Linked DNA regions of Homo sapiens: region 1 is linked to region 2. Evidence: fine-mapped expression QTL. A gene starts in region 2. The other region holds a variant in brackets. All regions are shown on one strand. Distances are between the middles of the regions.

Region 1 (12,070 bases), 60 kb after region 2:
CTGAGGTATGGGTCTGCAACAGCGACGGCTACGTGGGCCAGGTGTGCCTGCTGAGCCTGCGCGCCGAGCCGGACGTGGAGGCCTGCATCGCCGTCTGTTCCGCCCGCATCCTCTGCATCGGGGCGGTGCCCGGGCTGCAGCCTCGCTGCCACCGGTGAGGCCTGGGCGGCGGGGTGGGCGGCACCGCGGGCCTGGGAGAACCAACCCCTGTCCCAGCACACTCTCAGGCCGCCCCGGCGTGGTTGTGGGCGGGGCCCGGCGAGTGTGGGCGGGGTCGGTGGGCGTGTCCACCACCGGGGCCCCGTCTGGCTCGTAGCTGCTGTCATCCTCACTCCGTCTTCTCGCAGGGAGCCTCCTCCGTCGCTGAGGAGTCCTCCAGAGACGGCACCGGAGCCCGCCGGGCCGGAGCTGGACGTCGAGGCCGCTGCAGACGAGGAAGCCGCGACGCTCGCGGAGCCGGGGCCGCAGCCCTGCCTTCACATCTCCATTGCAGGCTCGGGCTTGGAGATGACGCCGGGCCTCGGCGAGGGTGACCCCCGCCCAGAGCTGGTGCCCTTTGACAGTGACTCTGACGATGAGTCTTCGCCCAGCCCCTCGGGGACGCTGCAGAGCCAGGCCAGCCGGTCCACCATCTCCTCCAGCTTTGGCAGTGAGCTTTGGCCATCTCCTCCAACTTGGCCTTGGCAGGCAGGGTGGACTGCCCAGAGGAGGGGGAGAGGAGGGACCAGTGTAGGGCAAAGGCATGGCGTCAGACCTCAGGATGTTAGCACACAGAGCAATGAGGGCAGGGGATGTGACACCAAGGATCCAGAGGACAGTGGGACAGTCAGGCGGGATCATGAAGACCCTGGAGCACTCAGCTAAGGAAGATGGGGTGCTGGTGGAGTGGGGACCCACGGTGTGGCCACTGGGTCTGAGGGGCCAGGCAAGATCAAGGATTCTGTAGTGCTGAGCTGTCGGTGAGCAGGGCAGCAGGGCAGCAGACCGGAGCAGGCCGGGGAAGAACAGCTTTGAGAGGCCTTCCGGAGGGGCATGGCCAGGAGGGATGCATGGCCTAGAAAGATATCAGGTCCCAGGCCTGGCAGAGGGAAATGGAGACAGAGACCTTTGTCTCCCTCAGATGAGGAGACCCCGAGTTCCAAGGAGGCCACGGCAGAGACCACCAGCTCAGAGGAGGAGCAGGAGCCAGGCTTCCTGCCACTGTCTGGCTCCTTTGGGCCTGGTGGTCCCTGCGGCACCAGCCCAATGGATGGGAGAGCCCTTCGCCGCTCCAGCCACGGCTCCTTCACCCGGGGCAGCCTTGAGGACCTGCTGAGTGTCGACCCTGAGGCCTACCAGAGCTCCGTGTGGCTGGGCACTGAGGATGGCTGGTAGGGACAGGGGAGGGACTAGGGACACAGTGCCAGAACTCTGAGCTCCCTGCTCTGGAAATCATGTGGTCCCCTGGAGCCAAGGCAGGAGGGCTTTGGGTCACACCTCAGGGGTACTGCTGACCAGGGATGTCAGTGGGTCTGACAATCCCAGGGAGGCTGTGGGACCTCAGTACCTTGGGCAGGCACCCAGCATTGAAGACGTGGTGCTAGGGGCAAAGAGGTGGAGGGATGACTCCAGGGGCTGGTGTGCCCCAAGCATTTGTCCCAGGTGCATACCCCGATCCACAGTGTCCACGTGTACCAGTCCTCCGACAGCATCCGTGACCGCAGGAACAGCATGAAGCTCCAGCATGCGGCCTCTGTGACCTGCATCTTGTAAGGCCCCAGGGTGGCCCTTCCTATCTAGACTCTTCTCAGCCACACGTGCAGGCCTCCTTCTGTTCATCTGGTCCCCCTGCTCTACTGTCCCTCCTCTGTGTGGAGGCTGGAAGCCAGAGGCCTGGCCCTAGGCTAGCTGTGCCTCTTACACACTGTGTGAGCTCGGGCAAGTCACCCCCTTTTCTTAGCCTCAGGCAACCCCCACCTGGAGAACAAGGGGTGGGAAGAGGTGGCCTCTCGGGAGCCATACCCATTCTATCTGTGGTTCCCCTGGTCCTGGGTGACCCACTTTGGCTGCCTGAACTCCCTTACTGCTTCCTCTTTTCCCTACCCAGGTATCTGAATAACCAGGTGTTTGTGTCTCTGGCCAATGGAGAGCTTGTGGTCTACCAAAGGGAAGCAGGTGAGTATCTGCCCTCCCCCACACCCTGCCCCTGTCCCCTTACTGGTGTTGGGGCTCTCTCCTGGAGATGTGGCTTTGGGCAACTCCCAGGCCCTCTGTGGGCCTTGGTTTCTTTGCTTATAAAAGGGGAATGTTAACATCTCATTTCAGGGGAGACCGAGGCTCAAATTTAGAACTGGAGTGAATTTCCTGTTTTCTTTACCCCACTCCAGGCCATTTCTGGGACCCCCAGAACTTCAAATCAGTGACCTTGGGCACCCAGGGGAGCCCCATCACCAAGATGGTATCTGTGGGTGGGCGGCTGTGGTGTGGCTGCCAGAACCGAGTCCTTGTCCTGAGCCCTGACACGCTGCAGCTGGAGGTAGCAGGGGGTGGGGGAATGGAATTGGTGCCATGGGATGAGCTAGGTCCGTGTGACAGGGAGATGGAGACCATGGTAGGGGCATAAGCAGCATCCAGCAGAGGGCTAGGGCCTTCCTCTGACCACAGAGTGACGCTGGCCAGTCCCTGTCCTCCTTCGATCCTCATTTCTTCTGTAGCTGATGAGGAATACAGTAAGTGTCCCATATACATTAGGAATCTTATTCATCCTCCTGCCCACCCTATCTCTCAACTCAGGTTTTAGGGTCCTTTGGGGATAGGACAAGAGTCCTTTCTGATGTCAACATCCATTAGCATTAGACTCTGGCATTTATTGCTGCACATGTCACTTGCACACATGTCAGAAGTATCCAGGGGCAACGGGTTCCCTTAATTTCCCTCACTTATTCCATTGTTGGCTGGGCAGGAGTCCAAAGCCCTGGGTTCAGGCCCCAGCTCTGTGACTGACTTGCTGTGTGACCTTTCCCTTCTAGGCTTCAGCTTCCCCACCTGTCCAGGGGGAGGCCAGTGACTGATTTTAGAACCCTTTAAGCATTGAAGTTCTCTGATCCTTAAATCACTCAAGTTTAATGGGGAAAAAGCACCTCCATTGTAATTCCTGAGAACTAAGTTGGGAGGTGCTGGTGAAACCAAGCTTCGAAAGGTTAATCAGACCAAGGACCAACGCTAGTGTGAGTTGTGAGGGATGGACACTGGTGAAGCTCCAGGCTAGGGTGGGCCAAGGGAGGCAGGCCTGCCAATGACCCATCTTCTCCCCCGCCTTCCCCAGCACATGTTTTACGTGGGTCAGGATTCAAGCCGCTGCGTGGCTTGCATGGTGGACTCCAGCCTGGGTGTGTGGGTGACATTGAAAGGTAGTGCCCACGTGTGTCTCTACCATCCAGACACCTTTGAGCAGCTGGCAGAAGTAGACGTCACTCCTCCCGTGCACAGGATGCTGGCAGGTACTGACCTCAAACTACCACAGCACCCTCCTTGGAGCCTTTCTGCCCGATCGTAGAGGCGGCTGAGCCAGGGCCAGAATTCAGCCCCAGCTGTGGTCTGTCTCCCACCCCAGGCTCGGATGCCATCATCCGGCAGCACAAGGCTGCCTGTCTGCGAATCACAGCGCTGCTGGTGTGTGAGGAGCTGCTGTGGGTGGGCACCAGTGCTGGTGTCGTCCTCACCATGCCCACTTCGCCCGGTACTGTCAGCTGCCCACGGGCACCACTCAGTCCCACAGGCCTCGGCCAGGGACACACCGGCCACGTCCGCTTCTTGGCTGCAGTCCAGCTGCCAGATGGCTTCAACCTGCTCTGCCCAACCCCACCACCTCCCCCAGACACAGGTGGGTCAGTGCATCATACCCCAAGCTAGGGATCATGGACATTTGGTTTAGGACTCCCCACTATCCTGCCAGAAGAGCTTTCAAGAGGGAGGAAAAGTGTCACATAGAGCTGGAGGTGGCATATGTGACAGGAAATACACCACGGAAGTGTCCAAATGAAATCTAGGATAGTTGTGTGTGTGTGTGTGTGTGTGCGCACCTGCATGTGTTGTGTGTATATAAAGTTCTATCCAGAGAAATGTCATGAGAGACAGGGAGGGAACTATAACCTAAGAGGTAGAATATGTCACAAATAGAATATGTATATAGAAAATATGTCCTGTTGTATATATTTCCTATATGCACCAGGAAATAGCACAGGACTAGAAATGATATATAGGGCAGGAAGTGGAATCAGGAAGTGATGCACAGAGCAGGAAATAGAAATAGCAACAGAAAACAACATAGAATGGCACTAGCACAGAAAATGGACTGATAATTAGAAAGTGAAACAGCCGGGTGCCAGGCGCGGTGGCTCACACCTGTAATCCCAGCAGTTTGGGAGGATGAGGTGGGAGGATCGCTTGAGCCCAGGAGTTCAGGACCCAGCCTGGGCAACATGGTGAGACACCATCTCTACAAAAAATACAAAAATTAGCCATGTGTGGTGGCACACACCTGTGGTTCCAGCTGCTCAGGAGGCTGAGCTGAGGTGGGAGACTCACTTGAGCCCAGGGAAGTCGAGGCTGCAGTCAGCAGAGATTGCACCACTGCACCCCAGCCTGGGTGACAGAGTGATACCCTGTCTCAAAAAAATAAAAATAAAAATATGGCCGGGCGTGGTGGCTGACACCTGTAATCCCAGCACTTTGAGAGGTTGAAGGGGGTGGATCACCTGAGGTCAGGAGTTCGAGACCAGCCTGGCCAACATGGTGAAAACCCATCTCTACTAAAAATACAAAAACTAGCTGGGTGTGGTGGCGGGCGCCTGTAATCCCAGCTACTCGGGAGGCTGAAGCAGGAGAATCACTTGAACCAGGGAGGCGGAGGTTGCAGTGAGCCAAGAGTATGTGCCATTGCACTCCAGCCCAGGCAACAAGAGCAAAATTCCGTCTCAAAAAAAAAAGTGAAACAGCAGGAAATGAGGTACATCAGGAGGCCACAACCAGAAAAGTCTTGCTTTGGCAGGACAAGAAATGATATTCCCAAGAGGAAGTGGCTGTGGAAATCAGGAAGCAATAAAGCCTCGGGTCAGGAGTTGTCTGGGTTCACAGAAGACTTAAGCTACCTGGGAAAGGGCTGTTGGAAGTAGGAGGCTTATTTAATGCAAGGACGTTGCGTGCAGTAATCAAGAGAGATAGAAAGTGGCATCTTACAGGGCACTTACATTGTAAAAAGAAAAAAATCAGAAGTGGCGTCACCTTGGGAAATTATGTGACTCCTGACTAGAGATTACAGATGGGACATAAGAAGTCTGGCTGCCAAGAAGTGGGCATTTCTTTCTAAATAAGTTCCTAGCTAACAGAAAGTGGGATTCCCCCATAGGAAGTGTGCACATCTTCCTTCCTATCTTCTGGGGTGTGGGAATTCAGGCCCCGATGGGACAGTGAAGCCTCCATTCGCCCCCAAGCTGACAGATCCTCCCCTCTGCCCCCAGGCCCCGAGAAGCTGCCATCACTGGAGCACCGGGACTCCCCTTGGCACCGAGGCCCCGCCCCTGCCAGGCCTAAAATGCTGGTTATCAGTGGAGGTGATGGCTATGAGGACTTCCGACTCAGCAGTGGGGGCGGCAGCAGCAGTGAGACTGTGGGTCGAGACGACAGCACAAACCACCTCCTCCTGTGGAGGGTGTGACCCTGTCTGCCGTGGCCCAGGACTCGCCCGCCCACCTGCCTTCAGCCTGCTTGCCTCTCCCTAGCCCACACGCAGACTTTGACCAGGAGTATCCAGCCAGGGGCACACATGTGCCTGCGTGGGCTCTGCCTTGTCTTCGCGGAAGCATTCCTGATGGAACACCCACTGGCCAGCCAGGCCATGGCTTCTCCCGACCCTCTGGCTGCCCCGGTGCTTCCAGTCATGAT[C/T]GGGTGGGGGACATGTGGGCTGACCAGGACCTCTGACCCTGGAGCTTCTACCAAAGACACAGCTGGGTCTGGACCCCACGGGGCTGGGGAGGGCCATGTGCAATATTTGGAGGGTTTTCTGGAGGGCAGCAGGAAGGCTGGGGAATTCCCCATGTACAGTATTTATGTTTCTTTTTAGATGTGTACCTTCCCAAGCACTTATTTATGCAGTGACCTGGTCACCTGGGGTGGGGGTGATTTGAGGAAATGACATGAGGAAAAGAAACCTATTCCTGCCCTGGGGACCACCCTGGGACTCTAACCAAGCCTTCCTGGAGGGACCCATGCGCCCCTGAGCCCCATTCCATTCATACAGACACACACGTACGCACACTGCATGTCCAAGGCCCTAAACATTGCCCGTTGACATAAACTTTCCAGGGCCCCAGCCTGATGGGGCTGCCCTCAGTCCTCTAGATCAAGATGCTGACTATTAGGGGGCAGTGATTGCCATCTGGGGACCTGTCAGGCTTTGTCATTTCCCAGTTTGTTGGTGGTGCCTTTAGTGGTTCCCTAATTTGGGAACACTGATGGGGCCTTGGACAGGGCTTTCTCTCAGGTAGGAGAAATGGGCCCATGATCTCCTCACAGTCGCCCCCAGTCCTTGGCCCTGCTTCCCTGTGTCTCATGCACTGGCACATATGGTCACCTTGGAGGGCAGACCTAGGAGCCCCTCTGACCACTGAATCCGTCTCCACACCCCTTCTGCCAAGGGAAGCCCCTTCAGGAAGGACCCCCCAAAGCTGAGGGGCTGAATGTAGCCTTTTCAACAGAGAAGGCTCCCACTTGAGAGCAGCCTCTACCTGACCCCCTGGACCACAGAGAGCCACTCTGACCCTCAGCCCCCTCGCTTCTTCAGCTAAAACTCCAAAGGTTTGGTTTCAGATGGGGTTTGTTTTGTTCTGTTTGGTTTTGGTTTTGTTTGGGGTGGGTGGGTCATTGCGGTCTTAGATTATGTTTCTCTTGCTACCAAACAGTCATGTATTAACTCTCTTTGGATGATGAAGTTTAAAGAGTCAATAAATAGAAACACCAGATGACTGCATTGGTGGCCACAGTGGCCTCCTGTCAGCAACCTCAGGGCTCAGTCTCCCTGGCCACATGGGCCTTCCGACGTCCACACACTTGGGAAGAAGGGAGGCCTTGGAGACCCAGAAGAGTGCTGGACGGCGAGGTTGCCACGATTTGCTGTGTTACCTGGGCAGGTGGCTGGGCTGCAGTTTCCTCATCAGGAAAATAAAGGGGTTGTACCAGTTCAGTGCTTTGTAACCAGGGTTACATGGTAGAATCCCTTGCAGATGACATGTAAATGCAGAAACATGATTCGTAACTTATTTACGTATTAATTGAGAGCTTCTGAGTCAGTGGGCCTGGATGGAGCTTGGGAATCTGAAGCTGACATGCTCCAGGTAAAGAGCCAGGACCCCTGTTGAGCCTGTCTACGGCTCCTCCAGGAAACAATGTTCTCCAGCAAAGCCTCAGCTGGAGAACCCTGATGAAGGCCAAGGCCCTGCTCCAACCCTCTGAAGTGTTTGGAGCAGGGATAGAATCCAAGTCTGTCTGATTTCTGGTCTGAAGAGGTCTGTCATTAAATCAGACACAAGAACGCACAGGCCCAGCAACATGGGACTATTCTGTGCAAGGACAGAGAGCCCTCCAGACCAGAGTGCACCTGCAGAACTAGAGGTGGCCATCACTAGAAGGCATGTCGTGCCTCAGCTCTGCTACACGCACGAACGTTTCCAGCCTAAATGACTGACTTTTGAGTCAGCCCCTGAAGGGGCATGCAAGCTCATGCTCTGCAAACTGGCAGCACACCTCTCAGGGGTCTGCTGGGTCCTCAACACCACAGGACGGGCATGGACCGTCTCCGTGCAGCATCATTTTACTGGGGCTATCTGGGGAGGAAGGGATTCTATTAATAAGCACAGATATATTATGGAGTAGGAGGCATCATTCATGTGGAATATATAACGAAACAAAGCATTAGAAGAAACACAGGCTTTGAAGCTGGACAGACCTTGTTTGAGATCTTGACTTTGCCGCTAACTAGCTATGTGCCTTTGGGCAAGTTGTATCCCCTCTGAGCCTCCATTTCCTCACGTGTGAAATGAGGCTGATGATCCCTTCCCGAACAGGACTGCTGCTTGGCGTGCACAGGTCTTTGGATTGCAAGAAAGAGATTCATTTTGCTTGTGAACTAGAAGGGTGCTTATTAGTGAAGATGTGAGCTGGCAGCAAGGAGCTGTCACAGGGCACTGTGGCCCAGACATCAGAGCTGCATCTCAGGACATCTGGCCTCTCCACTTGAGTCGCCAGTGCCTCCCACACTGCCAGTCAGTTGCTGTTCCACTGCTTTCCAGCTTCTGCTGCCTCAGGGCCTCCGCCTCCTCCACTCGGAGGACCCTGGGCAGACTTCAGTTTTAGCACAAGATACCCAAGACCAGATCCTCACCACTTCCCCGACTCAAGTGCCTCAGTAAGAATGGGCTTGGCCCAGCCCACTGTTACTTAGAGGCCCACATTCCAGGGCACTGGCCAGCCTGTGGACAGCCCGGACCCCATCAGCTGTGGGCAGGGAGGCCCTGGAATGAGCATCAGACCCCAGGCTCCCGGCCCAGGGGAGGCTCCTGGAAGGATTACCTCCTCTGAAGCAGTGGTTCTCAGCCTGGGATGCACATTATGATCATGAGGGCCTAGGCCAATTCCAAGCCAATTAAATCTGAACTTTGAGGGTGGGACCCAGGTGTCTATATGTTTTTCAGAAACCTTTAGTTGAAGTATAACATTTATACAAAAAAGGACATAAAAAAGGACCCAGCGTGATGGGTATTCATAAAGTGAACACACCCAGGTCAAGGAACAGAAAATCTCATCACCCCAGAAGCTCCCCTTAGACCTCCTTCTGGTCTGCCCTCCAAGGGTAACCACCACCCCGGCTTCTGACACCATGATCTAGCTTCACCAGCCAAGGTAGAGAACTGCTGCTGTAAAGGGAATGACTATGGTTAGCCACTGGTGTGGGGGAAAGTGGGGCTTGGGTTTGATGTTAAGAGGGAACGCCAGCCTGGCCAACATGGAGAAACCCCATCTCTACAAAAAATACAAAAGTTAGCCAGGCGTGGTGGCGTGCACCTGTGGTCATAGCGACTTGGGAGGCTGAGGCGGAGAATTGCTTTAACCCAGGAGGCCAAGGTTGCAGTGAGCCGAGGTTACACAGCACCCCATCCTGGGTGACAGAGGGAGACTCTGTCTCAAAAAAAAAAAAAGAACAGCTCAAACCAAGGCAAGGAGGGGTAGAGGAGCCTGGTGCAGGCCCAGGTGGATGGGGAAAGAGGAAAAGGCAGGGGCGCCTAGATTGGGAGCTCCGTGAGCGTGGGATTTTGTTCTTTGTTCCATCCCCAGGCCTGCCACAGTGCGTGACACACAGTAGATGCTCAGTAAATATTTGTTGAATTAAATCTGGAGAATTCAGGTGAGAACCAACTCTAGGTCTTGAATGCCACGAAACAATAAACCCAGCTTCCACTTAGTGTTTGCTGCAAGCCAGGAGCATGGATCATCTCGAATCCTCACAATGGTCCTGGGAGGTTGATACCATTATTACCCTCCTTTTCAGATGAGGAAACTGAGGTTCAGAGAGGTTAGATGCCTTCCTCAAGGTCACCTAACCACTAATTGATAGAACCTGGAATCTGTCTGCTCAGGTCTCTGTATCTCATGGAAGAGGAGGGCTGGCCTGGTGTGGCTGGAGGACAGGAGAGACAGCCTGAGCACCCAGAGTCACATGTAGTCACTCATGAGGCTGGACTAATGTTCCTTAGACCAGCCCTGGGAAGGGGATCCAGATCCCAGATGAGTGAGGAGAGTCAAAGCCAGAGGCCATCTCCTCTTCAAGGGAGTTCTCCAGGTGGTCCCTTGGGTTTGGGACAGGGGTCAGGGTTTAGCTAGACCATCTATCTAATGGAAAAGATGAGGCACAGAGAGGGTCAGGAACTTACCTGAGGTCACACAGAAAGGCAACATTGAGGCTGGGGGTAGCTGGGGAGGAGAGCCCAGGCAGGAAGGTTTCCTGTGGTCAGAAAAGCCAGGAAATGACCCTTAAAGCCAGGGGAGGCAGAAGGCTAGACGAGCTGGCCTCCAGGGGCCCCGTCACACACCTCAAACCAGCCTCAGCACTGGGCTGGTCCAGAGGGCTTGGAGGGAGCAAGTCTGGCTAAGGCCTTACCTTAAACCTTCTGGGCAGGGCCTGGGGAGGGCATGGGGGACCCCAGGGCTTGAACTCAAGCTCCAGCCCAGGCTCTCGGCACTGTGTGATGCCAGGCGAGTGTCTGTCCCTCCATAGACCTGGATGACCTCTGTGAGCCCTTTACATCTTCTGCATGCCTGCCAAACACCAAGTCTGTGTCCTCACAGACCTTAAGCCACAGGCCAGGTTGCAGGAAACGGCAAGGGGAAGTCTATTTTAGGCCCAATTATAGCCAATGAGGAGTCCTGCCTGGCAAAGGCAAGTGAGCTGGCATCCCAAGCTGGGTCAGAGGTAGTTTGCTGGGCTGGACTGGGGAGGGAGATAGTGAGCAGGCATCAGGGATAAATCGGGCAGAGCCCCTGCTGCCCAGGGCAAACAGTGCACCAAGGGAAGGGAGAGGAGAGAGAGCTCCTGAGCCCAGCGTCCTGGAAGAAGCTGGTGCCCCCGATATGAGGTCTCAGCAGATCCTCATAACACGCTTGGATGGGCGAGTTCTCAGAGAGGTGAAGTCACTTGCCTAAGGTCACACAGCCTGGCAATGGCAGAAGTGGGACTTAACCACTATCCATGTGACACCAAAGCATATATTCTTCCATTTTCCCCTAGATTTCTCTTCTCCAGGCTCCTTAATCTCAGATGCTTCAGCAAGCCACCTGCCTCCCTGGGCTTGGCTCACACTCCCTAGCTCTTGACCTGCTCATGTTCTGGGCCCAGAGGGTAACTGGACTGCAAGTCTCACCCTGACAGTCCCCAGGGTCCCCACCAGCCCCATTGTCTGCAGTTCATGGCTCTGGGTTCCTCTCTCAGACTCACCATGGGAACAAGAAAACCCTACACTTGCCTCCCTGAGCACCAGTCAGGTGGGCAATAGAACCTGGGATGGATGGAACTGAGAGTGCTGGGCCTCCCATGAGGGAGCCAGTGAGGCAGTCACCAAAGACTTGACACCTCCACCCCAGTGGGATTCCAGACCCAGGCCAGGGTCTGGACCTAAATGCAGGTTGAACCTGGTCCTCAGACCCAGACAGCCCCAGCTCAGCTTCTGGCCTGGCCCCAGGCTGAGCCCTATCCTGGCCTCCTAGCCTCAGTTTCCCCTCAGACTGAGCCCACCCTCCCCTGGAGCTAAGACACAAACACAGGACAGCAGCCCACCTTCTTAGGGTTAGGACTTGGCCCGCTGGGGGTTAGCCTAGGATGGAGCATTGAATTTTATTTTTTTTTTTTTGAGACGCAGTCTCGCTCTGTAGCCCAGACTGGAGTGCGATGGCACAATCTTGGCTCACTGCAACCTCCACCTCCCGGGTTCAAGCAGTTCTCCTGCCTCAGCCTCCCAAATAGGTAGGATTATAGGCGCCCACCACCGCACCTGGCTAATTTTTTTTTCTTTGTATTTTTAGTAGAGATGGGGTTTCACCATGTTGGCCAGGCTGGTTTACAACTCCTGACCTCAGGTGATCCGCCCACCTCGGCCTCTCAAAGTGCTGGGATTACAGGCGTGAGCCACCGCGCCTGGCCTGGAGCATTGAAATTTAAGTATGAGCCTGCTGTTCCTCCAGGCTTGTACTGTATGTACTTCCTTTTGGAATTCTAGCACAGCCAGCAAGCAGAGTGGCACCCACTACCTTTGGTCCATGACTCCAAGGCAGTCATCTACTCAGACCCCTGCATACAGCCACACTGTGGTGGCTCTGATTCTGTGACCCAGGATCCCCACCCCAGGCAGGGCCTGGCTGGGGCATGGCACCTGTACCCCTGCCTCCAGGTCCCCATCACAGCTCGTCCCAGTTTACTGGGACCTTGTGCTGTGTACCTACAATGAGGTGCACACATTCTCTGGGCCCACTTGCCCAGCTGTACCAT
Region 2 (12,070 bases):
TGTTGGTCAGGATGGTCTCGAACTCCTGACCTCAGGTGATCTTCCCGCCTCAGCCTCCCAAAGTGCTGGGATTACAGGCATGAGCTACCGCATCCGGCCTGGGCAAGTTATTTCATCTCTCTGTGCCTCAGCTTCATTATTATTCCCATAACATTATTATAAATGTCTATCTTTTTAAAGCCACTAGTTTTGGGGGGGCTTTTGTGACCCACAGCCAAAACTAATACCTTTACTTGGGTTCCATCCTGGGATGGTGGACCTTAGGTGCAGGCGAGGCAGTGACCTGGACAGAGATGGGGCCAGGGTCTAGGCTGGAGTGGGAGCTAGGAGCCAACAAGGTCTAGGGACACCGGGAAGGCTGCTTAGAAAAGATGCAGAGCCTGGGGAATGGTCAGCCCCAAAGTGGCTTGAGCTCAAGTGGGTGGGTGGGCTTCATGAAAGAAAGAGTGGGAAGAGGGGAGTCGTTCTGGGAACTCCAAGATTAGGGAGCTGAGGAGAAGGAGCCACAGACGTGGAGGGCAGGAGCCCAGGGGTCTCTGAATGATGGTGGTATGAGGGGAGAGTGGAGCTGGGTGAGTGAGTGAGAGGTTTCAGGGAAGGAAGTAGGGGTAGTAGGCGGAGAAGAGAAGAGGGAGAAAGATTCCAAGAAAGGCCAGGCCCAGGGATGGAGTTTCCAGGACAAAGTTGTTGCTGAGAGTTGGCTGGTGGCAGTTGAGGGCAGAGAACCCGGGTGGGGTGGGGGTGGGGAGGTAGGAGCAAGGATTGGGAAGCTAGAAAGTCGGGAATCAGTGACTGTCTTGGGGAAATTTCCATTCCAAACAGGAAAAGCCCAGGAGCATTTGATCTGTCCTAGCAATGGACAAAGCTGGCCTCTTCCTCCCTCATTCATTTGTTCAATGAATATTGACTCTGTGTTTCTGAGACGAGCTCAGGTCCAGGCCCTAGTCTTGGGAAAGAATCCAAGGGGTTTGGGATGCAGACAAGGAAACAGTTCATCCAGTAAACAATACTTATTGGGCACCTCCTATATGCCAAGCATCATGCTGGGCCCTCAGGGAGCCCCTAGTCTGATGGAGGAGACAGGTAATAATGAAACATATACAGACCTGGATCATTACAGCTGGGGAAGAGAGCTCAGATCATAAAGAGGACCCAGGCAAGGAAGGTATCACTAGGGAGATGATGAGCTCCTGGAATGGTCCATGGCCAAGAAATGCTAAATACCAGAGGGGCCCTGACCTAGTTGAGGGGCAGAAAATGTATCTGAGTGAGGCCTAGAGCCTCAGAAGGCCTCAGAAGGCATTAGCTCAGTGCAGAAGGGCTGCAACAGAGTCTGTGACTTTGACCAAGCACCTTCACTCCTCTGAGCCTCTGTTTCCTTACCTGTAAAATACTAGACCTTCCTAAGCCACCAGGGATACCGAGGAATAGAAAAGTTAGAGCAGAAATTTCATAAAGTACTAAACATACTATAACCCAATAGAAAAATGAGCAAGAGGCACAAATAAGCACTTCATATGAAAGGAAACACAAGGCCAGGCGTGGTGGCTCATGCCTGTAATCCTAGCATTTTGGGAGGCTGAGATGGGCGGATCACAATGTCAGGAGTTTGAGACCAGCCTGACCAACATGGTGAAACCTTGTGTCTACTAAAATATAAAAATTAGCTGGGCGTGGTGGCATGCACCTGTAATCCCAGCTACTTGGGAGGCTGAGGCAGGAGAATTGCTTGAACCTGGGAGGCAGAGATTGCAATGAGCCAAGATCACACCATTGCACTCCAGCCTGGGCAATAAGAGAGAAACTCCGTCTCAAAAAAAAAAAAAAAAAAAAAAAAGGAAACACAGATGATTAAAAAACATAGACGAGAAATTAGATCCCAGCTTGACAATGCTTCCCAATGTTGATCAATTGCCTGCCCTATGCCCAAGCACTTCTGTCCATGTGTACCTGGAGTCATGCACAATGCTCAGCAAACACCTGGAAACACCCAAATGTGCATCAGCAAGACACTGGATCAACACACTGTGATATAGTCACACACTGAAATAGTCCACATGGCCAGAATGGAGTATAGAGGCATGCAACAATATGGGTAAATCTTTTCTTAATATTAAGAAAAAAGAAGTCCCAACAAATTTTGTAAAGCAAGAAACCCCCCTCCTTTTTTTTTTTTTTTTTTGAGACAGTCTTGCTCTGTTGCCCAGGCTGGAGTGCAGTGGTGTGATCTTGGCTCACTGCAACCTCCACCTCCTGGGTTCAAGTGATTCTCCTGCCTCAGCCTCCCAAGAAGCTGGGATTATAGGCATGCACCACCACGCCTGGCTAATTTTTGTATTTTTAACAGAGGCTGGGTTTCACCATGTTGGCCAGGCTGGTCTTGAACTCCTGGCCTCAAGCAATCCACCCGCCTCAGCCTCCCAAAGTGTTGGGATTACAGGCGTGAGCCACCACGTCCAGCAGGATGCCTTTTTTTTTTTTATAAAGTTAAGAACAACTAAAATGAAAAGATATAGTTTGAAGGAATATATAGTTTGAAGGAATATGTTTGAAGGAAAGCAAGAGAATGCTGAACACAGGATTTGAGATGATGATTTTCTGATTTTCTGTGTGGTGGGACAGCAGGAGGATGGGAGCAGAAGAACTGTATAATGAGATGTGAATTATTTTAAAGGTCCTAGTTGTATTGTTTTGTTTTTTGGCGAAAGCCAATTAAATAACTGATGAGAATGTATCATTATCAAAATATTATAAAGAATTTAATCCTGTGTGCTTAAGGTCTAATTATATAGGAAAGGGGGCAATCTCAGATAGTTTCTATTTGGCTTTGCAATGGAGTCAGAAGAGTCAGATTTCCCCCTAAGACAGCTCCTTCATGGAGCTCATTGCTTCTTGTCCCCGCACTCATCATTTCTCTCCCTCTTAAGTACAGTTGCTCCTCGACTTACGATGAGGTTACATCCCAATAAACCCACTGAAAATATTATAAGTCAAAAAGACATTTAATACACCTAGCCTACCAAACATCAGAGCTTAGCCTAACCCACCTTAAACAGGCCCAGAACACTTCCATAGCCTAGAGTTGGACAAAAATCATCTAACACAAAGCCTATTTTATAATAAAATGCTGAATATCTCATGTAATTTATTGAATACTGAAAGTGAAAAACAGAATGATTATATGTGTGCTCAAAGTATGGTTTCTACTGGATGTACATAGCTTTTGCATCATCATAAAGTCAAAAAATCATTAAGTTGAAATATCATGAGCTGGGGACTTATCTGTACCCGAAGCCCACCAAAGCCCATCACTGGCCATGACCTGTGACCTTCAAAACCTTCCCATCTTGATTTCCCCAAGGGATTCCACGGTCCTCACCTCACTAGATCACCATGACTCACTGGGTAGATGGGCTATTGTTTTCATTACCCTTTCATAGGTGAGGAGCCTGGGGCCCAGAGAAAAGGGGGTGAGCTGCGGAAGGTGAGCCTGGCTTCAAAACCCCAGCGTAGGGTTTCTCTCCACTCTGGTGCCCAGTGCTCCCAGCCCCCTATCAAATAAGTCTTCTTGGGGCTAAAAATTGCTGTACATAATTACCAAGCACCATTAAAATTCCAGATCTCTTCTGTTCATGGAAGATAACTTTGTCTTATACTGGATCATAAGGAGCTGGGGGTGGGAGGGTTCCTGAAGCACTGGAAGCAATCAAGCCACTCTCAGATTGGGTGAGCTTCCCTTTGGACAGAGACCCAGTCTAGATCCTTAAACACCCCCCTCCCCACCAAGGGGATTCCTGAGCCAAAGGCCCCAGCCAGCTCACCTCAAGGCCAAGCCACAGGACTCTGGGAGCCCATGACCTGAACCTCCACTCCTCTCTATCCACTTGCCCATCTGTGATATGGGATAAGGGTTTCTGTCCCAGAACTGACAGGGAGGTGGAAAAGTACAAATTTCAGATAGTAAGAGTCATCATTATGGGGGGAGAGAGTGACTCCTGGGATGAGAGTCCTGTCCCCCACCCCTCCACAACCCACCCCTCCACAACTCACCCCTCCACAACTCACCCCTCCCCAACTCACCCCTCCACAACTCACCCCACAGCACACACCAAAACTTGCCCCAAAGAGCAGAAAGAAAATACTAAAGGAGGTGAGAGTCTGACATCAAATGCCAGAGCCAGAGAGGGCACTCTTGGGGAACCTGAACCACTCCTCACTTTTCAGACACCCCACTCCTCACTTTTCAGACACCAGCAAGTGCAGGGATTTACCCAAGGTCACAGAGTAAGGCCGAACAGAGAGGCACAGGCCAGCAGGGCTCTCTTTTATCAATTTCCTAGAGAAAAGGGAGAGATTTACTCCTTGGCCCCCTTGAGGCAGAGCTGAGATGAGGTTGAGGTGAGGGACTCCCTGGATGCTGGTCTCAACACAGAGAGGAAGCACTTTCTTGCTACAGAGATATTCCACAACTCAAGAGGCTGCCCAGAGAGTGGAGAGTGACCTCCTCATCCTGTGGGGTATATGAGTAGCAAGCAGGTTCTGGAGTCCCGGCTGAGTCCTCTCTCTCTCATTCGGTAGTCAGGCAATCCCTGGGTGTCTACCATCCTTTCCTATCCTCCTGCCTGCCCCTCTCCTCTGAACCCCGTCTCCTAGCCTAGTCTGGCCCAGCTACATCTCCTTGGCTGGACCTGGTGGCAGTGGGGTTGGCTGGGTAATGCACAGACTGCTGACCTAACTATGTGTCCCCGAGGCCTTGCTACTGGGGGTTGGAGGGGCCAGGGCAGTTTGACCAGGCCTGAAGAAGGCTGGGCAGCGCTGGAGGGGCATGGGTCAGACCAGGTTATCCTCTGTTCCTGAGGAGAGTGAGCTCAGGCCCAAGGAGGAGAAGGAGGAGACTGGGGGCTCAAAGGAACGAGAACCTCCTTCTTCATCAGGATTTGGGGGTGCATCTCAGAGCTGGCTGGAGGAGCATGGTGTTTGAAGCCCCTGAAATCTGAATTTTAGCAGGAGCTGCTATTTCCTGACTTGCATAGTGGTCAAAGTTACTTCTCCTTCACGGTCCACAGAGAAGGGGTAATAATATTTGTCCCCAAGGGTGGTTTGTGGATTTTAAAAAATAAGTTAAATAATATTGCCCATACATTATAGGTACTCCATACATTTTCATTCGTTCGTTCATTCGTTAGTTGGGCCGGGAGGATGAATGGGATCTAGAGGCAGGTGGGAATGCGGAAGGGGATGATGCCCCAATACCGAGAACAATGTGAGACTCAGACGGAGGCAGGGGCGGGAGGGGAGCTCAAGCGAGGGATCAGCGTGAAGCCAGAGAAACAACCGACACTTTTCCTGCCAAGAAGGTGAAGCAGCTGCGGGTAAGAGTATAGGTTTGGCAGTGGGAAGTCGAGGGCGTTCCCGTCGAAGCTCCTTTTGTGTATAAGGCCTAAGAAGGGGCAGTGCGCTTTGCGAAGGTCTGAAAAAGACTAAGGGGATTAGGTAACGACTGAAAGGAAGTTTTCACAACTCTCCGTTTTTGGGGGATGGGTGCTGCTTTATCCGTCCAGGACTCCGTGCGTTGGGAAAATCACGCCGCGAGGGGGCGCAAGAGCCGCGTACTCCAGAGCAAGAAGAAAAGGCTCGGGGATCCAGGCGGAGAGTCCAGGAGAAGAGCCGCCAGACTGCAGGGGCAGGTGGAAGGCGTGGCAGCTGGAAAAGTAGGGGTGGGGGCGCGGTCGTGAAGGGTGGGACTTCTGGAGCAACGCTGGGCGGGTTGGGGGCCGGTCGGAGCCGGACAGGCGGCTGGGAGGTGGGATGGGCGGGGCGCTTGGGAGCGAGATGGGGGGACAAGGGCGTGGCTACAGCTAAATTCGCCGCAGAGGGCGGGCGGGGAGGGGGAGGGAAGGGGAGGAGGCGTGGCCTGGGCGGGGAGTAGGGCGCGACGGACCCTTCAGTTAGCCCGCGGCTCCCCGGGCTCTCCCTGGCGCCGAGTCCCACCCCTTTCCCGGCCCAGAGAGTGTGCGTCTGCGTGCACCTGAGTGTCAGTGTGTACGAGAGTTTGTGAGTCCGAGGTTGCCATGTTGGAGCCCCTGGGCAGGAGGTGTTTCCGCGCGGAGGCTGGTGGCCCGCGGTGGACGCGGCGCCCTGGCTGCGAGTCTGCGGAGCTGAGCACGCTCAGCGGTTGTGTGTGTCTCAGCGACTCCCTGGGGGCAGCTCGGCCTGCTGGGCTCCCGAGGGACCTCTCTGGAGGGCCAGAGGGTCGCCTCAGTCTGCAAGTCCTCCAGCAGGCTTTTTCTTCTTCGGCTCCTCCCTGATTCCCTCCCACCACGCGGTTCCCAGGCTCGCGCACGCCCGGAGCCCACCCCCTCTTTTGGGCGCGAGGCCCCGCCCCCCGCCCCCTTGCCTCTGCCGCAAAGTTTATTTGCAACAAAAGGGTGCCAGGAGCGAGCAGCCAAGGGCGTTGGGCAGGCGGACGCAGAGTCGAGGAACCAAGCGCTGGGATCCCGCCCAGGCGGTGCCGCGGTGCCCCTGGTCGCTCCAGCCGCGGCGGGGGCTGGGCCTGGGGGTCGGCGCTGAGGCGGGAGGGGCCGCCCGGGATGGAGACGTTGCGGCCGGTGGCCACAGAAACTTGAGCCGCGGCAGAGAAACCTCTGCTCCGGTCTCTGCGTCCTCTTCCCACACTCCCGTGCGCTGCTTTCGGCGTGGGCCGCTGCGCTCCTAGGGAGTGGGGGCGCAGGGGGGGTTGGCCGCGGCTGCCCGAGGCCAGCCCCCCCGGAGTGAGTTACGCCACTATGGCGGACGGGGCACCCCGGCCCCAGCTTTACCGCAGCGTCTCGTTCAAGCTGCTGGAGCGCTGGAGCGGCGGCCCCGGGCTGAGGGAGGAGGACACGGACACCCCCGGCTTGAGGCGACGCGCCTCGTGCCGGCCGACCACGGCTGCCCGGGGCCAGCCCTCTCGGCGCGTGTCCAAGCTGGCGTCTGGGCCCCTGGCCGCCCCCGCGCAGCCGCGCCCGCTCCGCAGCCTCTCGCCGTCGGTTCGCCAGCTCTCCCGGCGCTTCGACGCGCCGCGTCTGGACGACGGCTCCGCTGGGACCCGAGACGGAGGCGTCTTACCCGCGGCCGCGGAAGAAGCGGCCGAGGGCCCAGCGCGAGGAGCCTGGCCCAGCGTCACCGAGATGCGCAAGCTCTTCGGCGGTCCTGGCTCCAGGAGGCCCAGCGCCGACTCTGAATCCCCAGGAACGCCCAGCCCCGACGGTGCCGCGTGGGAGCCTCCGGCTCGGGAGTCGCGGCAGCCACCGACGCCACCCCCTCGGACATGCTTCCCCCTGGCGGGTCTGCGTTCGGCGCGGCCCCTGACCGGGCCGGAGACCGAAGGGAGGCTGCGCCGGCCGCAGCAGCAACAGGAGCGGGCGCAGCGTCCAGCGGATGGTTTACATTCTTGGCATATCTTCTCCCAACCGCAGGCCGGGGCCCGGGCCTCCTGCTCCTCCTCCTCCATCGCCGCCTCCTATCCTGTCAGCCGCAGTCGTGCTGCCAGCTCCAGCGAGGAGGAAGAGGAGGGCCCGCCGCAGCTGCCTGGAGCCCAGAGTCCGGCCTACCACGGCGGCCACTCCTCGGGCAGTGACGACGACCGAGACGGTGAGGGCGGCCACCGCTGGGGAGGGAGGCCCGGGCTCAGGCCTGGAAGCTCCCTATTGGATCAGGACTGCAGGCCTGACAGTGATGGGTTAAATCTAAGCAGCATGAACTCAGCAGGGGTTTCTGGGAGCCCTGAGCCCCCAACATCTCCAAGAGCCCCTAGAGAAGAAGGACTCCGGGAGTGGGGTAGTGGCTCTCCGCCCTGCGTCCCAGGTCCCCAGGAGGGACTTCGGCCTATGTCTGACTCTGTGGGAGGAGCTTTCCGTGTGGCCAAGGTGAGCTTTCCCTCGTACCTGGCCAGCCCCGCAGGCTCCCGCGGTAGCAGCCGTTATTCCAGCACGGAGACCCTCAAGGACGACGACCTATGGTCTAGTAGGGGTTCTGGGGGCTGGGGCGTGTACCGCTCCCCTAGCTTTGGAGCTGGGGAAGGGCTCCTGCGGTCCCAGGCTCGAACCCGTGCCAAAGGACCTGGAGGCACCTCTAGGGCATTGAGGGATGGAGGATTTGAGCCTGAAAAGAGTCGACAGCGGAAGTCCCTGTCAAATCCAGATATCGCCTCAGAGACCCTGACGCTTCTCAGTTTCCTGCGCTCAGACCTTTCAGAGCTGAGGGTCCGAAAACCTGGTGGGAGCTCCGGGGACCGTGGAAGCAACCCCCTAGATGGCAGAGACTCACCATCCGCAGGTGGCCCTGTGGGGCAACTTGAACCCATACCCATCCCAGCCCCAGCATCACCTGGCACGCGCCCCACACTCAAGGACTTGACAGCCACTCTGCGGAGAGCAAAGTCATTCACCTGCTCTGAGAAGCCCATGGCCCGCCGCCTGCCCCGCACCAGTGCTCTGAAGTCCAGCTCCTCCGAGCTCCTGCTCACAGGCCCTGGTGCCGAGGAGGATCCGCTGCCCCTCATCGTCCAGGACCAATATGTGCAGGAGGCCCGCCAGGTTTTTGAGAAGATCCAGCGCATGGGTGCCCAACAAGATGATGGAAGCGATGCCCCCCCTGGAAGCCCTGACTGGGCAGGGGATGTGACCCGAGGGCAGCGGTCCCAGGAGGAGCTCTCAGGCCCTGAGTCCAGTCTGACAGATGAAGGCATTGGGGCAGACCCTGAGCCTCCTGTTGCAGCATTTTGCGGCCTGGGTACCACAGGGATGTGGCGACCTCTTTCCTCATCCTCGGCCCAGACGAACCACCATGGCCCTGGGACTGAGGACAGTCTGGGCGGGTGGGCCCTGGTGTCGCCTGAGACCCCTCCCACACCAGGTGCCCTCCGCCGACGACGCAAAGTCCCACCTTCAGGTTCTGGTGGGAGCGAATTGAGCAATGGGGAGGCAGGGGAGGCCTACAGGTCCCTGAGTGACCCAATTCCTCAGCGCCACCGGGCTGCCACCTCTGAAGAGCCTACTGGGTTCTCTGTGGACAGCAACCTCCTGGGCTCACTGAGCCCCAAGACAGGGCTCCCTGCCACCTCAGCCATGGATGAGGGCTTGACCAGTGGTCACAGTGACTGGTCTGTGGGCAGTGAAGAGAGCAAGGGATATCAGGAGGTTATTCAGAGCATAGTTCAGGGGCCTGGCACCCTGGGGCGTGTGGTGGACGACAGGATTGCTGGCAAAGCCCCCAAGAAGAAATCCCTGAGTGACCCCAGCCGCCGTGGGGAGCTGGCTGGGCCTGGATTCGAGGGCCCTGGAGGGGAGCCCATCCGAGAAGTTGAGCCCATGCTGCCTCCATCCAGCAGCGAGCCCATCCTTGTAGAGCAGCGGGCAGAGCCAGAAGAACCTGGTGCCACCAGGAGCCGGGCACAGTCTGAAAGGGCCCTACCTGAGGCTCTGCCTCCCCCTGCCACTGCCCACCGAAACTTTCACCTTGACCCCAAGCTGGCTGACATTCTGTCCCCGAGGCTAATCCGCCGAGGCTCCAAGAAGCGCCCAGCTCGGAGTAGTCACCAGGAGCTTCGGAGAGACGAGGGCAGTCAGGACCAGACTGGCAGCCTGTCTCGGGCCCGGCCCTCCTCCAGACACGTTCGCCATGCCAGTGTGCCCGCCACATTTATGCCTATTGTGGTGCCTGAGCCACCAACTTCTGTTGGTCCCCCTGTGGCTGTGCCAGAACCCATAGGCTTCCCTACCCGAGCCCATCCCACGTTGCAGGCACCATCGCTCGAGGACGTCACCAAGCAGTACATGCTGAACCTGCACTCCGGTGAGGTCCCTGCCCCAGTGCCAGTGGACATGCCCTGCTTGCCTCTGGCTGCACCGCCCTCTGCTGAGGCCAAGCCCCCTGAGGCAGCTCGGCCTGCAGATGAGCCTACCCCTGCCAGCAAGTGCTGCAGCAAGCCACAGGTGGTGAGTCCTTTGTAGGGGCCTTCAGATTGGGGCCAAAGAAGGGCCATGGGCACCGACTTCGGTTGGAGCCTTTTGCATTGTATTCACTGGTCAGGTGCCCAGGTGCCAAGGGTGCTTTTCTGGTCCTGGAAGTGCCTGTGCAGTTTTAAGAGTTGTTAATGACACAGGGCTCCTGTCTACTCAGGCCCTGTAGAAGCTTCAGTTTTCTGCTGGTGCTAATGGCAAAGGGTCTTGTCTGCTCCAGGTGTTCTGGGTGGTAATTACAAAGGATTCTTATCTTGTCCTTTGGATGTTTCTCAGGGACTGGTTTTGGAAATCCCTGTGTGGTTCTTTGTTGGAGGGATGAGTGTGATGGCACCCAGCGCAGGCTCAGTCCTTTCTCTGAGGCTTGCTACTCTGTTGGCCAGACCCTTGATAGGATGTTTGGCTCAGGGGCCACAGTTGACATGGGTTTGCCCTTCTTCGTGTGGCTTTCCTGTGACAGGTCAGAATATAGATGTGTTCCTGGGCCTGGGAGAATTGGGGAGGTACAAGGCTTTACTTTATGGAGGAGCAGAGGGGGCTCAGGGTTCTAACTGCAGTTCTGTTCTTGCTGTGTGACATTGGCCTTTCTCTGTGACTTAATCTCCCCAATCAGGGGAGATAGGTGGACAAACTAGTGCCTATGTTTCCATCCAGCTGGTACTGTGCAGATTTGGGGGAGCCTGCGGTTTTGAGTTGGGGACTCTTGGGGCCTGAGTTCTGCCAGAGCCTCCTCAGATGAAAAAAGCTTCTAGATGGGGGCTTCTAGGGGAGGATAGAGGCAGGGAGGGGGCTGCAGAGGCTGGGCAGCCAGGGCCCTTTAGAGAGGTCAGGAGTGGTTCTGGGCCCCATATTCAGGGCTGCCTCTATGGGTCTGGGGGGTCGGTTCTTGTTCCCCCATCCTGTCTGCTTGCATCTTTTCCCCACTCTACCCCCTTCTTGGTGACTCTGAGATGCACCCCGTTTCTGCCAGACCCCCAGCCCTGGGGGCTCACTCTCCCTGAGACCCCTCCTTCTACCTTCTGGCTTCAGCTATCCCTGGAGTTTAGGCTGTGGATTCAGATGGGATCCAGATGGCATATGCCCTGGCATCTGGGTTGGGAGCTAGATTCCAGGCTGTGGATTCTGAGCTGAGCTCAGCGATGGCCAGTGGTTACTTCAACTGTGGCCTGCGCTCCCACTGCGCTCCCTGACTGTGTGAGAAGCCTGGAAATTATAAACCCTGGACTGATTCAGTCACTCCCTTTCCCAGCACTCTCATGGCCCCTCTGAACTCCCTTTCTCTTTGTTTCTCTCTCCTTGTCTCCAGTTACCCCTGGTCCTGGCTCTGGGGTTTCTCATGGAGGCTGCAGAGAGAGCAGGCAGGGAGTGGGGAGCGGGGCGTTTTGAACCTGTCCTTCCTTCTGAGTCCCAGTGAGGGCAGCTCCGGTGCCCCTGAACTCCAGTGCCAGTTCTGAAGGTGGGGGAGGGGAGGAAGACAGCAGGTCCAGTTCTTGTCAGGGGTCTCCTCCCCAGCCTCCTTTCCCATATATCTTTTCTGGGAGCCTTGAAGGCTCAAATGGGGGAGAGGACAGGAGTAAACCAAGGGACTCAGGGAGACTGAAGGTGGGTTGGGGGTGCTTCTAAGAGAAGGCTTTGAGACCCAGAGAGGAGGTGGGAGTTTACAGAACTTCTCCTGCCCCACCTCCCTTCACATTCTCCTCTACCCCCCACCCCTTTCTGGAGCTCTGAGGCGGGACAGATCTGCCATAACATGGGCTTCTCCCTGCCACGAACAGAGGCCTTCTCTGATCTCCAAGCTTTTGCCCACTCCAGGCCTCTCACTTTTCCAGGCCCAGCTTGATGTCCCCTTAGGGGGAGGTAACTGGTGAGTCTGTCATTAGAAGAGCAGGGTGTGAGCCTTGCTCTTCTGATCCCTGTGTGGCCTAGGATCCATCATATCCCTGCTCTGTGCCTCACTTCCCCCTTCCATAAAATGGGGGTAATGGCCTCTGCCTGGCAGGCTGTCTCTTGTGGTGAATGGGTGGTGTGATCATTTCCTCTCTGGTAGCAGGAAAGAAGAAAAATGGAGG

Which allele goes with the higher level. Positions count from the first base shown, and alleles are read on the strand shown. Sizes are in standard deviations (SD) of each study's normalised expression.
As copies of T replace C in region 1, the expression in thyroid of the gene that starts at base 7,508 in region 2 goes up (moderate effect, 0.58 SD a copy in GTEx).

What was found. PIP is the estimated chance that this variant, and not a neighbour inherited with it, causes the effect.
Region 1: its variant is fine-mapped to the expression of ARHGEF17-AS1 in thyroid (GTEx, PIP 0.93).

What each region holds. Positions count from the first base shown.
Region 1 is chr11:73,362,086-73,374,155 of GRCh38, forward strand. ARHGEF17 (Rho guanine nucleotide exchange factor 17) reads left to right here. Exons shown (of 21, transcript NM_014786.4): 13 at 1-154; 14 at 348-649; 15 at 1,121-1,370; 16 at 1,662-1,748; 17 at 2,087-2,154; 18 at 2,367-2,515; 19 at 3,305-3,479; 20 at 3,593-3,862; 21 at 5,499-7,303. The coding sequence ends at 5,695. Among named protein-coding and RNA genes, the nearest start is that of RELT, 8.3 kb to the right of the region's middle. RefSeq lists enhancers at 1-469, 119-413, 4,261-4,430. The variant C/T (reference allele first, on the strand shown) is at 5,923.
Region 2 is chr11:73,301,854-73,313,923 of GRCh38, forward strand. ARHGEF17-AS1 (ARHGEF17 antisense RNA 1) reads right to left here and starts at 7,508. Exons shown (of 3, transcript NR_147696.1): 1 at 6,819-7,508; 2 at 6,029-6,711; 3 at 5,658-5,703. ARHGEF17 (Rho guanine nucleotide exchange factor 17) reads left to right here and starts at 6,423. Exons shown (of 21, transcript NM_014786.4): 1 at 6,423-9,977. The coding sequence starts at 6,786. RefSeq lists silencers at 5,795-5,934, 6,335-6,664, 6,895-7,114 and enhancers at 6,535-7,412, 7,418-8,238.